3 separate regions of the Homo sapiens genome follow, and regions 2 and 3 are each linked to region 1. The links come from fine-mapping of genetic effects on gene expression. A gene starts in region 1. Each other region holds a variant in brackets. All regions are shown on one strand. Distances are between the middles of the regions.

Region 1 (4,243 bases):
TTTTTAAGTTTATTTTAAAACTGAAGGCAGATTATTCATAAAATCATTCTGGAGACTTATTTGGGTTTCTACGACATGTACACAGACAGCCTCTACTGTGCTATATATATTTTGATTACTAGGTATAATGAATACTCTAAACCAAGAGAGTGTGTTTAATGAATAGTATCTTTAAAAGGAGACGATTTTTAACCTTCCAAAACTGAAGAGAACCATCCCTGGCCTTCTTAAAAGATTATAAAATAATGCACACATTTAAAACAATAAATTTTGCCTTCTACTTTTGAGCATGGAATTTAGTTATATAGTAGAGCTGGGGCCTCCAACAAAATCCAGTCACAAACTGACATATTTACAGCGCTGTCAACCAGGTACTTTATGCCCATTCAGAACATTTAAGGGTCCCAATTAACTACTGTGAAACTCGGGACTCAGCCCCACATAAAACTATTAGAGAACGTTTTTTTCTTTTAATCCATGAGAACCATATGCTTAATTTATACTGTAGGATGAAAAGATGTCCTTTTTAGCAAGTTCTACCATTCTGCCATTTTGCATTTGAAACACGGCCCAAGTGTTCTGACTAAGTGAAGTGTACAAATTGTGTAAGCTTTTATATAAGCAATGGTATAAATGGGGTTGCAGTGGGCTGGAGAAACTTTTAATTGCATCCCTTTAATATCCTCCAACTCTGAGCTGCTTAATTCCAAAAAGTGATGTCGCCTCCTACAACCCTTTTCAACTAAATATGATTATGTTTATCAGGAAATGCACTTTGCTAAAGCATAAGCTATTCATGAATATCTTTCTCAGCGTATTACACAAGGAAATTCATCAGGTTTTGACACCTGTTTCAATAATGTATACTTTTCCTAATAAAAGAGGAACTTCTGTCCTGGTATATACACAATCTCTTTGGCAAATATTGTTAAATATTAAAATAAGGTGATCTTTGTTCACAGCCAGGAATACTGGCTTAGGTCACACATAATGCAAATTATTGTTTCAGTATTGCCATTCTCAGGAGTAGTAGCTGCTAACTTAGCAGCTATAGGAACACACCTGCTAATTGTATTCTTTAAAATGTAGACTTCATTACCCATTTCTAAAATATCTTCCTAGTAATTTGTCCAAGATCTCCAGGTCAGCAAAGACTGCTACTCTTTTAAGACCAATACTTTAAGAAACGGAATGAAAACTAGGAACTCACACACTCTGAACTCCACCTGCATCAGGTGGCCTTTCTGCTCCCATAACTAGGACGTTTCCAAATGCACCCCCAAATAAGGTACAATTCCCCAACATCCTAGTTACGGGGTTCTGGCTTCTATCTTTAGGCTACTGGAGGACCAGAAGCGAAATACGACTCCACGTGAAACCAATCCCGGGAGCGGTCAGCACGGACCGCCAACCTCACCCGCTCAGGGTGTTCGCTCTAACTCCACGGGAGTGGCGATTTCAAACCCGGCCGGGAGAGGGAGGGATCAGGAACGTAATGTGACGGGCTCAAGTGACAGCGTCCTCTCTCCAGCCCAACCCTCCCGGGCGGCGCTCCCTCCCGGTGGCAGCGCAGCGCTGGCGCCGGCCAGGTACATTCACGCCTAGCTCCCCTGAGTGTGGATACACGGCCCGCTCCAAGAACGGGGTCAGATCCAGCCCTCGCGCCCCAGTCCGGTCCCAGCGCCCTCTCTGGGAAAGGCGGGCGCGGGCGCGGGGGTGGGAGGCGCCCCCAGGTGTTTTGGCGGGTTTCCGGACACGTGCGCCCGGCGTCCTCCCCGCTTCCCCGCAGCCGGGGCAGAGCCCACCGCACCAGCTCGCGGAGCAGCCGAGCCGCCCGTTACGCCGCTCACCTCCGTCCCCGTAGGTCTCCACGCCGTACCCGTCTTGCAGCCCGTTACTCCAGGTACCCTCGTAGCGAGCGGGGGTGCACAGGCTCTGCCGGACCCCGTAGCGCCCCTTGAAACCATGTGACCACTCCCCCCGGTACATCCACTTGCCCTTCGTCTCCACCCCCAGCCCGTGCCGCTTGCCCTGCGCCCAGTAGCCCTGGTAGGTGTTGCCGCTGGGCCAGGTGTAGCCTCCGACCACCTCGAAGCCGTGCGACCAGGAGCCCGAGTACTCGCCCTGGCCCTTGGGCCCCGTGCAGATGCCATGCCCGTGCGCCTTGCCCTCCTCCCAGCCGCCGCAGTAGGTGCCGCCATCGTCGAAGTCGAACCTTCCGCCCGTCATTCGGGGGGCAGCCCCGGCGCGCTCCCCGCAGGGGCACGGACGCGGGCAGTGCTGGGCACGGCAGGGTGTAGCTCGGGGGTGGGGGCCCGGCGGGCGAGCTCACGACAGCGCCCTGGGCAGCTCGCGCTGCCGCTCGGCTCCAGTCCGACGCCGCCCCCGTCCTCCCTCCTCTTTTGCCGCCGCCACCGCCGCCTTCCTCCTCCTCCTCCTCCTCCTTCGCCGCCGCCGCCTGGGCCAGCGCCGCGCGCGAGAGGACAGCCCAGGTTCCCGAGCGGACCTTCAGCTGCTCCCGCCCGCCCACGTGAGCCGGGCACCGCCCCGCGCCCGCCCCTCGTCCCCTCCCCGGGCGCCGAGGCCCGGCCCCGCGGCGCTCCCGCCCCACCGGGCCCTGCCCCCAGCCCCGGGAGCCGCCGCTTCCTCGGCAGGCGGGCGCGCGCGGGGACCGGCTGGCGCGCATGTGTTCGCGCAGTGGGATGCCGGTGGGAGGGCGAGTGTACCCGGGGACGCACGAGAATCCCTGCCTGGAGATGAAGGCGCGGCTGCCTGTGTGGGGGCCGCTCGCGGGCGCCGGAGCCCCCGGTGTTTGTGTTTGGGGTTTTTCAAAGTGGTTAAGCTCCTGTGAGTGCGGCCACGTGTGTGTTGAGGGAAAACTCATTGTATGCGTGTTTGTCTGCATGGGGTTTGTAGTTGCATTGTTTTCGCATTCCAACTTGTGTACTGTTGCATTTGTCATGCTCAGCTGTCATCGTGAATTAATATCGCCTAGATATATGTATGCATGTGATGTAAATCTGCGGCAGCCTAGATATAATTGTGCAGAGTGTTCTTTTACACCTACCCGTTTCAAAGCACACGTGTTTGCATTTATTTAATGAAGACACTGAGGGTGAGCAGTACAGTTTGAAAAAGCACAGAATATATTGGTTAGTTTTTTATTAATAGTGATGAAGAGGATGTTTTCAATCGGCCTTTGCAGTGGTACAGGATATTCCTTTTACATTAGAGCCTGCCCCCTCTCGTGCCTCGTTTGTGCTTCTTAACAGCCTTAGAGATTCTTGAGCCTGGAGCTGTGTGCCCAACAGGTAGACGGCTCGGTCTGTGTACATTGTATAAGTGTCTGGAATGCACACCTCTCCACTGGTATCCACTGTTTAAGAAAGTAAATAGAGGTTTGCAAGGAGGAATATGGTAAGTAAAGCACTGCTCTAAACTTGCAAAGAAACTGTGACCTACAAAACCAGGGACAGATGTCAGCTGGTCTACTTTCTAGCTACAACACTGCTTTGTCGAATTCACTTTAGGCAACTCTTCTAAACTTTTAAACCTCCATTTCACCATCTTCTGAATGGGACTAACAAGATTTGCCTTTCTCTTTCTATATTCGGTAATAACTGAGTATATTGTGGCTGCAGTGCCAAACCAAAAATTAGAGATTTGGTAATAGGCAAGTTGGATCAGCATTGCCTCTGGTGAGAGAAAGCATTATTCTCCACCTCACCCTCAAAATACCCACGGGAGAAACTTCTCCCACTTTCACAGCCTAGGGTCTTAGTTTGGCCTCTCAAGGAAACTGATTTGGAGTGTATTCCTGCTATTTCTTAGGCTGAGAGGCCTTTGGGTGACTATGCGAGCATCAGAAGCTGCCAAAGGTTCTCTCACTAAGTATTTGATAATCAGATATAGATATAAGGACAGGTGTCAGGAAGACAGCCTGGGAAAAAGTAGACTAAACTGCACAGAAAAGGAACTGAAATTGACCTTGATTGCCTCTCTCTCAGGACGAGAGCCGACCTTTCCTACTTATCTGGCTGAAAGACTGAAAGAAAAATCTCAGTTTATGCAGAACCAAATCACCAAAGAGAATTAGAAGCCCTCATCCATGGCACTGCCCGCAGAGTTGCCAGGAATAGTGCTTACCCTAGTGGCCTGAAATAATTATGCATCTCTCGAAGCATCTTGTCCTGGACTGGGGATTGATTTAGGCCGCTGGGAAGATGAGGGCCAGGGCTTTGCG
Region 2 (4,243 bases), 37 kb before region 1:
CTAATCCAACCTGAGTTTAGGAGACTTTCCAAATGTTCCATAGTTCCCTGTGTTGGAAGGATCACTATGCATCAGGCATTACATAAGATCCAGCTCATACATGAACCTACCTAATCCTTTTGATTTCCCTATCAGTATCCTAAAGTTATTGATGAAGACACCAAGGATCAGGGAAGTTAATTTACTTGCCCAAGTTGGAGTCAAGACTTTGCCTGACCCCAAAGCATGTGTTCTTCCCACACTCCACTACCTTAAATCACTGAGATATTCACTGAGTGTGAAAAAGATTAGTCCCCCTTGCATGCCTACTAGTCTAGACCTTCCACCAAGTTTTCCCTATCAAAGACCCAAAGCTGTTATTCAAAAGATGTGTGAATATTTTATTCTAAAATATTACACTTGGAGCGATCTGCCCAACCACAGAATGTATTCCATACCCTATTGGAAAGCTTTAAGTTTTTTTCTGTGCCATTAGGATAGAGATGTCACGAATATGCATGCTGAGGTGGGTACCAACAGTCTTTTCAACTGCAGGAAAACATTTTAAATTAAGAGTTTTAGAATGTATATATTTGAAAATAAGCCAAGCACAGAAAGGTAAATACCACATGGTTTCATTCTTTTGCGGAAGCTGAAAAAGTTAATCTCATAGAAGTAGAGAGTAAAATAGTGGTTAACAGAGGTGAGGAAAGTTAGGAGGGAGATGAGGATAGCCAGAGGAGGTTAACTGAGGCAAAATTACAGCTAGGTAGGAGAAATACATTCTAGTGTTCTATAGCACTACAGGGTGACTATAGTTAACAATTCATTATGCATTTTCGAATAGCTACAAGAGGGGACCGGGAACGTTTCCAACATAAAGAAATGATAAACGTTTGAAGTGATGGATTTCCTAATTGCCCTGATTTGATCATTACACATTGTATACATGTATCAAAATATCACACTGTTCTCTATAAATATGTACAATTATATGTGTCATTTAAACATAATAAATGAATTTAAATGGGTATAATATTTTACTAGAGGTATTTTAATGAAGGGCATCTTGACTTTTAAAACACAGTTAAACAGTGTTTATTGTAGCAATGCTTGTGACAGTAGGGTGTTAGGGGTTATTAGGGGAGCAGCGAGTAAAACGTGTATGTAGACTTTACCATGCAGCAGTCAGAATGCACCAGGGGTACATATGGCTGCATGGATAAATCTTAAAACTGTGCTGAGTGGCAGAAAGTACATATAAATACAACTTAAAATGCATGTAAAATATAAAATGTTATTAATATCTTAAATATATATTTTTAAATTATAAATAAAAGAAAATGGCCTGTGTGGCATAGTGTCATTTATATAAATTAAAAATATAGAAAACAACACTACATTTTTCAATGTCTACATAATCAATGACATATAATAAACATATTACTGAGTGCTTATAGAGGGGAATGGGAAAAAGGGAGCACAAGAGAGGGGCTTGCACTGATGGTTGCATACAGAAAGCCAGAAACTGAGGGCTGTGATGACATCAACCTTCTACACTGAAAGGTTAAGAAAAGGGAAAGGAAGGTGAGAAGGAGGAAAGATGGGCAGAAATACAGGTAGGCAGAGGATGAATACAAGTTATGAATCTAACTCAGAGCTTTGGCTCCACACACTCATTTTAATCTTTTAGTTCTATTTTTATCTTATAGTGGCATAATATACAATCATCAGTTTCAGAAACTTCTTTTAACAGCGTGCTGAGTGCACACACAGCTCCCCCTCCCCAAGCCCTGATTAGAAGCCCAGATTGCAGCTTGAATACTAACATACACTGAAAGTGGTACTTGTTGGCATTAGAATTGAACTCTTGGATTTAGTCCCATAAAAAATGCTCCTTTTTCTTTTTATAAATATATAGACTGGCAGAATATAAACACCACAGAGCAAAGAGATGGAGGAAATGAAAAGAACAGTGGCAAGTAGCGCTTGGATGGGATTTAAAGTCTGAGACTTTCTCCTTTTCCTTACATTCCTCCCCTCCACCCAGGAGATTCAAGGGGTGGCAGTGATTGCAAATTTCCTTCCCTTGGACCCAGGAGTCCTCCTGTCTCTTAACCTCAGGCCAGCTGGGGAGGGCTGTGGTGGTTGGGGAAAAAGCCCTCAGGAGCCAGGGCTGGTGAATGAACTCCTAAACAAACTCTCTATTGACACATCACTAAAAATAAGTATGCTTACATGCATAACACATTTTTGGAACAGTAAACTGAACTCTCTCCTTTA[T/C]CCTCTCTTGAGACTTATGTGTCATTCTTATTCAAATTTTTATAAAATAAAATGCAGGTGCAACATCTTCCAGCACTGTAGGTAGTAACTTTTGATGTGATGAATGCACATCTGCTGAGAAGTTAAGGAATTGTGGAGAGAGTGGCTGGGTGGTGTATGTCAGCTAGCTAGCCTGTATTCCGGTCAAACGCTGATAAGGCTCACTTGGGCATTGCCTTATTTAGTCAGACTTCTCTGCTGAAACACCGGTGCACGGTGACAACTGTGCATGCTATTACAAGGCTTTCTCCTTTCAGTCATCTGCTGACACACCAATTAAAAAAAGCGTCTCCATTATTGAAACAGCCTTTCCGACTAGCAACTTTCCTACAAAGAATAAAGATAATGATATTATAAATAAATCTGAATATGTTTACCTGGCAAAAGAATTCTCATAAGGAATAATACAAATTGAGTTCTAGTTCTTAAGGCTTTTTTCCCCCAACACTAAACAAATTATAATATTGTATATTACTACTCTACTAGCTTGGCTAAGCTGCATTTTTTTTTTTTTTCATAGACCGGTATGTGCTGGTATGGTTACTATTTCTTCTTTCTTTCTTTTTTTTTTTTTCAGACAAAGTCTCACTCTGTCACCCAGGCTGGAATGCAGTGGCGCAATCTCGGCTCACTGCAACCTCTGCCTCACGGGTTCAAGTGATTCTCCTGCCTCAGCCTCCTGAGTAGCTGGGATTACAGGCAGGTGCCACCACACCTGGCTGATTTTTGTATTTTTAGTAGAGATGGGGTTTCACCATGCTGGTCAGGCTGGTCTCGAACTCCTGACCTTGTAATCCACCCACCTCAGCCTCCCAAAGTGTTGGGATTACAGGCGTGAGCCACTGCGCCTAGCCTATGGTTACTATTTCTAACTGGAGATTTTTTTTTAAACCAACAGGCATTATGGTGTTGTAAAGAGCCTTACACTCAAAGTTAGTGACTTGATCTAGACCTGATTCTGCTATTAACTGCACATACACACATACACACACATATACATGAATTTTTCCATATAAATACTATATCTACTTTATGAATTTTTCCATATAAATACTACATATAAATACTATATGTATTTAAAATATTTTCTAGAAGTCTAGCATGTGAGCCGGTACTACTTCTAGAATGAGGAAGCTCTTTATGTAATGATATGGAATGAAATCCAATATATAGTATATTATTAAATTAAAAAAAAGCCTAGGATGCAGTGTTTTCTGAGCTAGAATCCTTTATCTGCAACTCCAAGATCTTGAAAGCTTTAAAAATCAATATTTCCTTTTTATAAATTTAGTGTCAAAACTTGACAGTAACACCTGAATGCAACTGACATGAGGCTATTTATGATTCTTCTTTATCCCACCTAGTGTGATTATTCAGTTTCCCTGGAGAATTAATGTGTCTGATTACTTGGTGTGCTCAGACCCCCTGGGGATATTATGTAATCTGCATTATATGCAACATGTTGCTTTTCTAAAATCCAGTTCTGAATTCTAAAACATATCTGGACCCAAAAAGTTTTGGATAGCAATTATGGACTTGGAGCATGTAACCATCTGCATCAAAGAGGATAAAACATATTTCTATATATGTAAATAACAGAAAAAGTTTTATGAAGATACTTCACTGCCTTCAGGGAAAGGATTTGGTCAGCTGGAGTGAGGAGGAGATTTATCACTCAGTCTATACCATTTTGTACTTTAAAATTTTGAACCATGAACATGTATCATTTATGCAAAAAATACGGAAAGTTAAATGTTTTAAAAATCATCACTTGTAAATACAGGGCAAGAACCTGGTCTATTTAAAATACATCCTGTTAACTAGCCTTTCATATGCAATGCTTCACACCCATTGCTGGTGGTTACCTTGATCCATATCCTACTCGGTCACCATAAACTCCCATTTCTCTTGACTGTCACCTTACACATTTCCAAGTCTTTCC
Region 3 (4,243 bases), 28 kb before region 1:
AAAAATTCCCTATTTAATAAATGATGCTGGAAAAACTGGCTAGGCATATGCAGAAAGCTGAAACTGGATCCCGTCCTTACACCTTATACAAAAATTAATTCAAGATGGATTAAAGACTTACATGTTAGACCTAAAACCATAAAAACCCTAGAAGAAAACCTAGGCAATACCATTCAGGACATAGGCATGGGCAAGGACTTCATGACTAAAACACCAAAAGCAATGGCAACAAAAGCCAAAATTGACAAATGGGATCTAATTAAGCTAAAGAACTTCTGCACAGCAAAAGAAACTACCATCAGAGTGACTAGGCAACCTACAGAATGGGAGAAAATTTTTACAATCTACCCATTTGACAAAGGGCTAATATCCAGAATCTACAAAGAACTTAAACAAATTTACAAGAAAAAATCAAACAACCTTATCAAAAAGTGGGGATATGAACAGACACTTCTCAAAAGAAGACATTTATGCAGCCAACAGACACATGAAAAAATGCTCATCATCACTGGCCATCAGAGAAATGCAAATGAAAACCACAATGAGATACCATCTCACACCAGTTAGAATGGCGATCATTAAAAAGTCAGGAAACAACAGGTGCTGGAGAGGATGTGGAGACATAGGAACACTTTTACACTGTTGGTGGGACTGTAAACTAGTTCAACCATTGTGGAAGTCGGTGTGGCGATTCCTCAAGGATCTAGAACTAGAAATACCATTTGACCCAGCCATCCCATTACTGGGTATATACCCAAAGGATTATAAATCATGCTGTTATAAAGACACATGCACAAGTATGTTTACTGTGGTACTATTGACAATAGCAAAGACTTGGAACCAACGCAAATGTCACTGTGGCACTATTTACAATAGCAAAGACTTGGAACCAACCCAAATGTCCATCAATGATAGACTGGATTAAGAAAATGTGGCACATATACACCATGGAATACTATGCAGCCATAAGAAAGGATGAGTTCATGTCCTTTGTAGGGACATGGATGAAGCTGGAAACCATCATTCTCAGCAAACTATCGCAAGGACAGAAAACCAAACACCACATGTTCTCATTCATAGGTGGGAATTGAACAATGAGAACACTTGTACACAGAGTGGGGAACATCACACCCCAGGGCCTGTCGTGGGGTGGGGGAGGGGGCAGGGATAGCATTAGGAGATATACTTAATGTAAATGACGAGTTAATGGGTGCAGCACACCAACATGGCACATGTATACATATGTAACAAACCTGCACGTTGTGCACATGTACCCTAGAACTTAAAAGTATAATAATAATAAAAAATTAAACAGAAAAAAACGTTCTGAAAAACACAACTGATTCCCACATGGCACTTACTCTCCACCTTGTATCACAGTGATGTGGAATGTTCCACTACTAACTAATATGCCACTTGAGCGCTGGCATTATTCCATGCTCACTTGGAACCCCCTGAATACCCAGCAGTGTCTACTCAAGGAAGCGACATCAAACGGCCAATAAGCAAGGGGCTTGGTCTAGGTCTTCCATGAACTGCCACTAATACACACTGCGGAGGGGTCTGTGGTCACTGACTTCTAGCTCCCTGTGTTTCCTGTGTTTTACCTAATTCTTCTGATGCCATTTTGCAGATTACAAGTTACCCAGCTGCATATGGGGGAAAAGAATGGCTTCAGTTATTTCCTTAAAGCCTAAACAGACACACTTACAAACGGGTAAAATGAAGATATTTTAATAATCTTAACACAGACGTTTCACACTGCTGTTAAAAAACAAACAAACAGAAAAGTAGTGTAAGGAGAATTTCCTACCTAACTTTAATGTTATTTTCTCATACTTTAAATTCTGGCTATTTCTTCTGAACAGGTTGATCAAAGCCATATGAGGTAGCAACACAGAAATGTAGATGTGTAGGTGGGCAATTGTGTTGAAAAGGGAAATCCAATCAAGTCCTGTTTAGCAAGGCAAAAAGCAAGACAAAGACACAGGTGTTCAGCTCAAAGCTGTTTAAACTTCATAGCAGATGGCAGGCAGGGGTGAATCAGGCTGGTCTGAGTTTTAAAAAGGAAGCCTCCATCAAAGAAATCTGTCTTTATAGCCACAGTTTGCACACACCCTAGAGCAGCCTTTGGGAACGTCAAACAGAGGTGTGGTCATACAAACCACAGGCTGGGATT[C/T]TTCCTCATATTTGTATGCAAAGTATTAGGAGAAAATAATTTACTCTTTTCCAGAATTTGGGTAGGAACCTGTACAGCTATCTTTCTCAGAGACCTGAGAGCCAATGAACTTCTACTACTAATCTAGTAACTGAAAAAATATATATTATGACCTGTATTTCACAAAAGCCTTGGATAATGCCTCAAAGACACTATTATATCCTTGGATAGGCCCAGTGTGGCAGCAGGAAAACAAATTCACCAAAAATCTCTTGATGTGACCCCATAAGAGTAAGAGCTCCACCTGCACAGAGTTTACTAGCGTTGGGCACCGTTCCAAACACTTAACACACACCAATTCATTAAGCACTCATTCTAACCCTGTGAGGAGGTGCCACTAACTATCATGCCCATTTTACAGATGGGGAAACTAAGGCTTGGAGAGGTGAAACCGGTTGCTCAAGGCCACTTAAAGTGACAGAACCAAGATCTCAAGTTGCACAGCTGAACGAACCACTACCCCATCATGCAGAAATATTTCAAAATAATTCCCTAAATTTCTCTGAGTAAAAACCAGGCTGTCATGTTAAAGATTTTATAGGCATGCTTTGCCTTTTCTGCCTTCTGTAATACTTGGTGATGCAGCTCACATTCACTTCTTTGATTTCTGGCAACCATAACTGAATTAGAGTTGACTTACCACTTCTCCTTCCAGGACCAGACTGACCATAAAGAGGGGAGGGCACTTTATCAGAGCTGAAACTATGAGACTATGCCAGGCTTGGACCACTGCCTGTGAGATATTTCTGGCAAAAATAGGATAGTCTGGACCCAACTTTTGGAAGACAAAGACACCGGGGGCCAATTGACACCAACCTCCCACTCAAGAGCCAGCAGCCCCTAGGTTGGGCATGGGGTGTCTCTTTTGTAGAGCGCAGACCAGGGTCCCCCTTCACTGCAGGAAAGGGCTGCCTTCATCTCAGCCCCGACTTCCAAAACACAATGCAGGCGTCACTCTGGTCTGTCCTTGGGGGCTGGTGGTGGGGGAAAATCCTGCACACCTGAGGGAACTCCTCTGAATGTGGGAGGCAGGAGCATGAATGGCCACAAGGGCAATTATGTGAATGTGCTCTACAGCTAGGGCCTGGGGACTTCTCTGTAGCCTGATTTCTTCTCATTGAAGATAAAGTTCCCCACGTGCCACCTGCCCTCAGCTCCTGCTCTTTCTGCACTTCTCTCAAGCAGCTGAGTAATAAAACTGATAAATCAAACCTACCTTATTCACCTCTCGAGCTTCATTTCTAAGTGAAGCATTTGAACACTGTCCAGGTAGACCAGAGACAAGCCAAGACAAAGTCGGCCACGGTGAGGAAACAGGGCCAAAAGCAGGCCCGGATGTCCCTGTCCTGATTCACGTACTACCAAGACAAAGCAAGTCAAAATGAGCACTAGGCACAAATTCTACAACAATCTCTCTTCTCACAAGAATTCTTCCTCTTCCTCAGAACAAATTTCTTTTTTGGTGATGCTCCCACACATTGTCTGAACCTCCACGTAGCTATTATTTAACTTCAAGCTGCATTGCTAGTTGTTTACATATTCATCTGTCTCTTGGTTATAAATTTCCTGAAGGATAGAGTCCGTATCTTTTTCATTTTGGTTTCTCCCAAGGCACCAAAATGTGTACTTGCTTTACACAGAGCAGGCATTTGGAAAATGCTGGTTCAAATGATCACAACATTTACTCTAACATGAAATATTTAGTGTCCACTTTCTACTTTAAATTTATTGACTCTTTAAATTTTCACAATGGTCCTCTGAGTAGCTATTGCTGTTCTTTTCCCATTTTGCTGATGAGGGAGCCTGAGACGTGGAACAGTTAGGCCATCTGCCCAACTCACAGCATTGGCAGGGCCAGGGTCTAAACGACTGTCTGGTGGCACAGAGTGTGTGCTTTACCACTAACCACACATGCTGCTTCTCTGTGCCCTGGACCTACATAAGTTTGAATGACAATAGCACTTTAGCAGGGAAGAAACAAATGAGAGCTCCTAATCCTCCATGCTTTTGCCCTTGCAGGTCCCT

Direction of the effects. Alleles are on the strand shown, and positions count from the first base shown. SD is a standard deviation of normalised expression in the study named. Not every link is listed here.
In carriers of allele C in region 2, the expression in aorta of the gene that starts at base 2,482 in region 1 tends to be higher than with T alone (small effect, 0.22 SD a copy in GTEx).

Evidence for each region. PIP is the estimated chance that this variant, and not a neighbour inherited with it, causes the effect.
Region 2: its variant is the best candidate, but not a certain one, in a credible set for the expression of JPH1 in aorta (GTEx, PIP 0.86).
Region 3: its variant is the best candidate, but not a certain one, in a credible set for the expression of JPH1 in nasal epithelium (TOPMed, PIP 0.60).

Annotation. Positions count from the first base shown.
Region 1 is chr8:74,319,059-74,323,301 of GRCh38, forward strand. It overlaps JPH1 (junctophilin 1), which reads right to left and starts at 2,482. Exons shown (of 6, transcript NM_020647.4): 1 at 1,851-2,482. The coding sequence starts at 2,229. RefSeq lists an enhancer at 1,549-2,439 and a silencer at 2,533-2,632.
Region 2 is chr8:74,281,968-74,286,210 of GRCh38, forward strand. All of the region lies in intron 2 of JPH1 (junctophilin 1), which reads right to left. Among named protein-coding and RNA genes, the nearest start is that of JPH1, 37 kb to the right of the region's middle. RefSeq lists an enhancer at 1-252. The variant T/C (reference allele first, on the strand shown) is at 2,263.
Region 3 is chr8:74,290,881-74,295,123 of GRCh38, forward strand. All of the region lies in intron 2 of JPH1 (junctophilin 1), which reads right to left. Among named protein-coding and RNA genes, the nearest start is that of JPH1, 29 kb to the right of the region's middle. The variant C/T (reference allele first, on the strand shown) is at 2,180.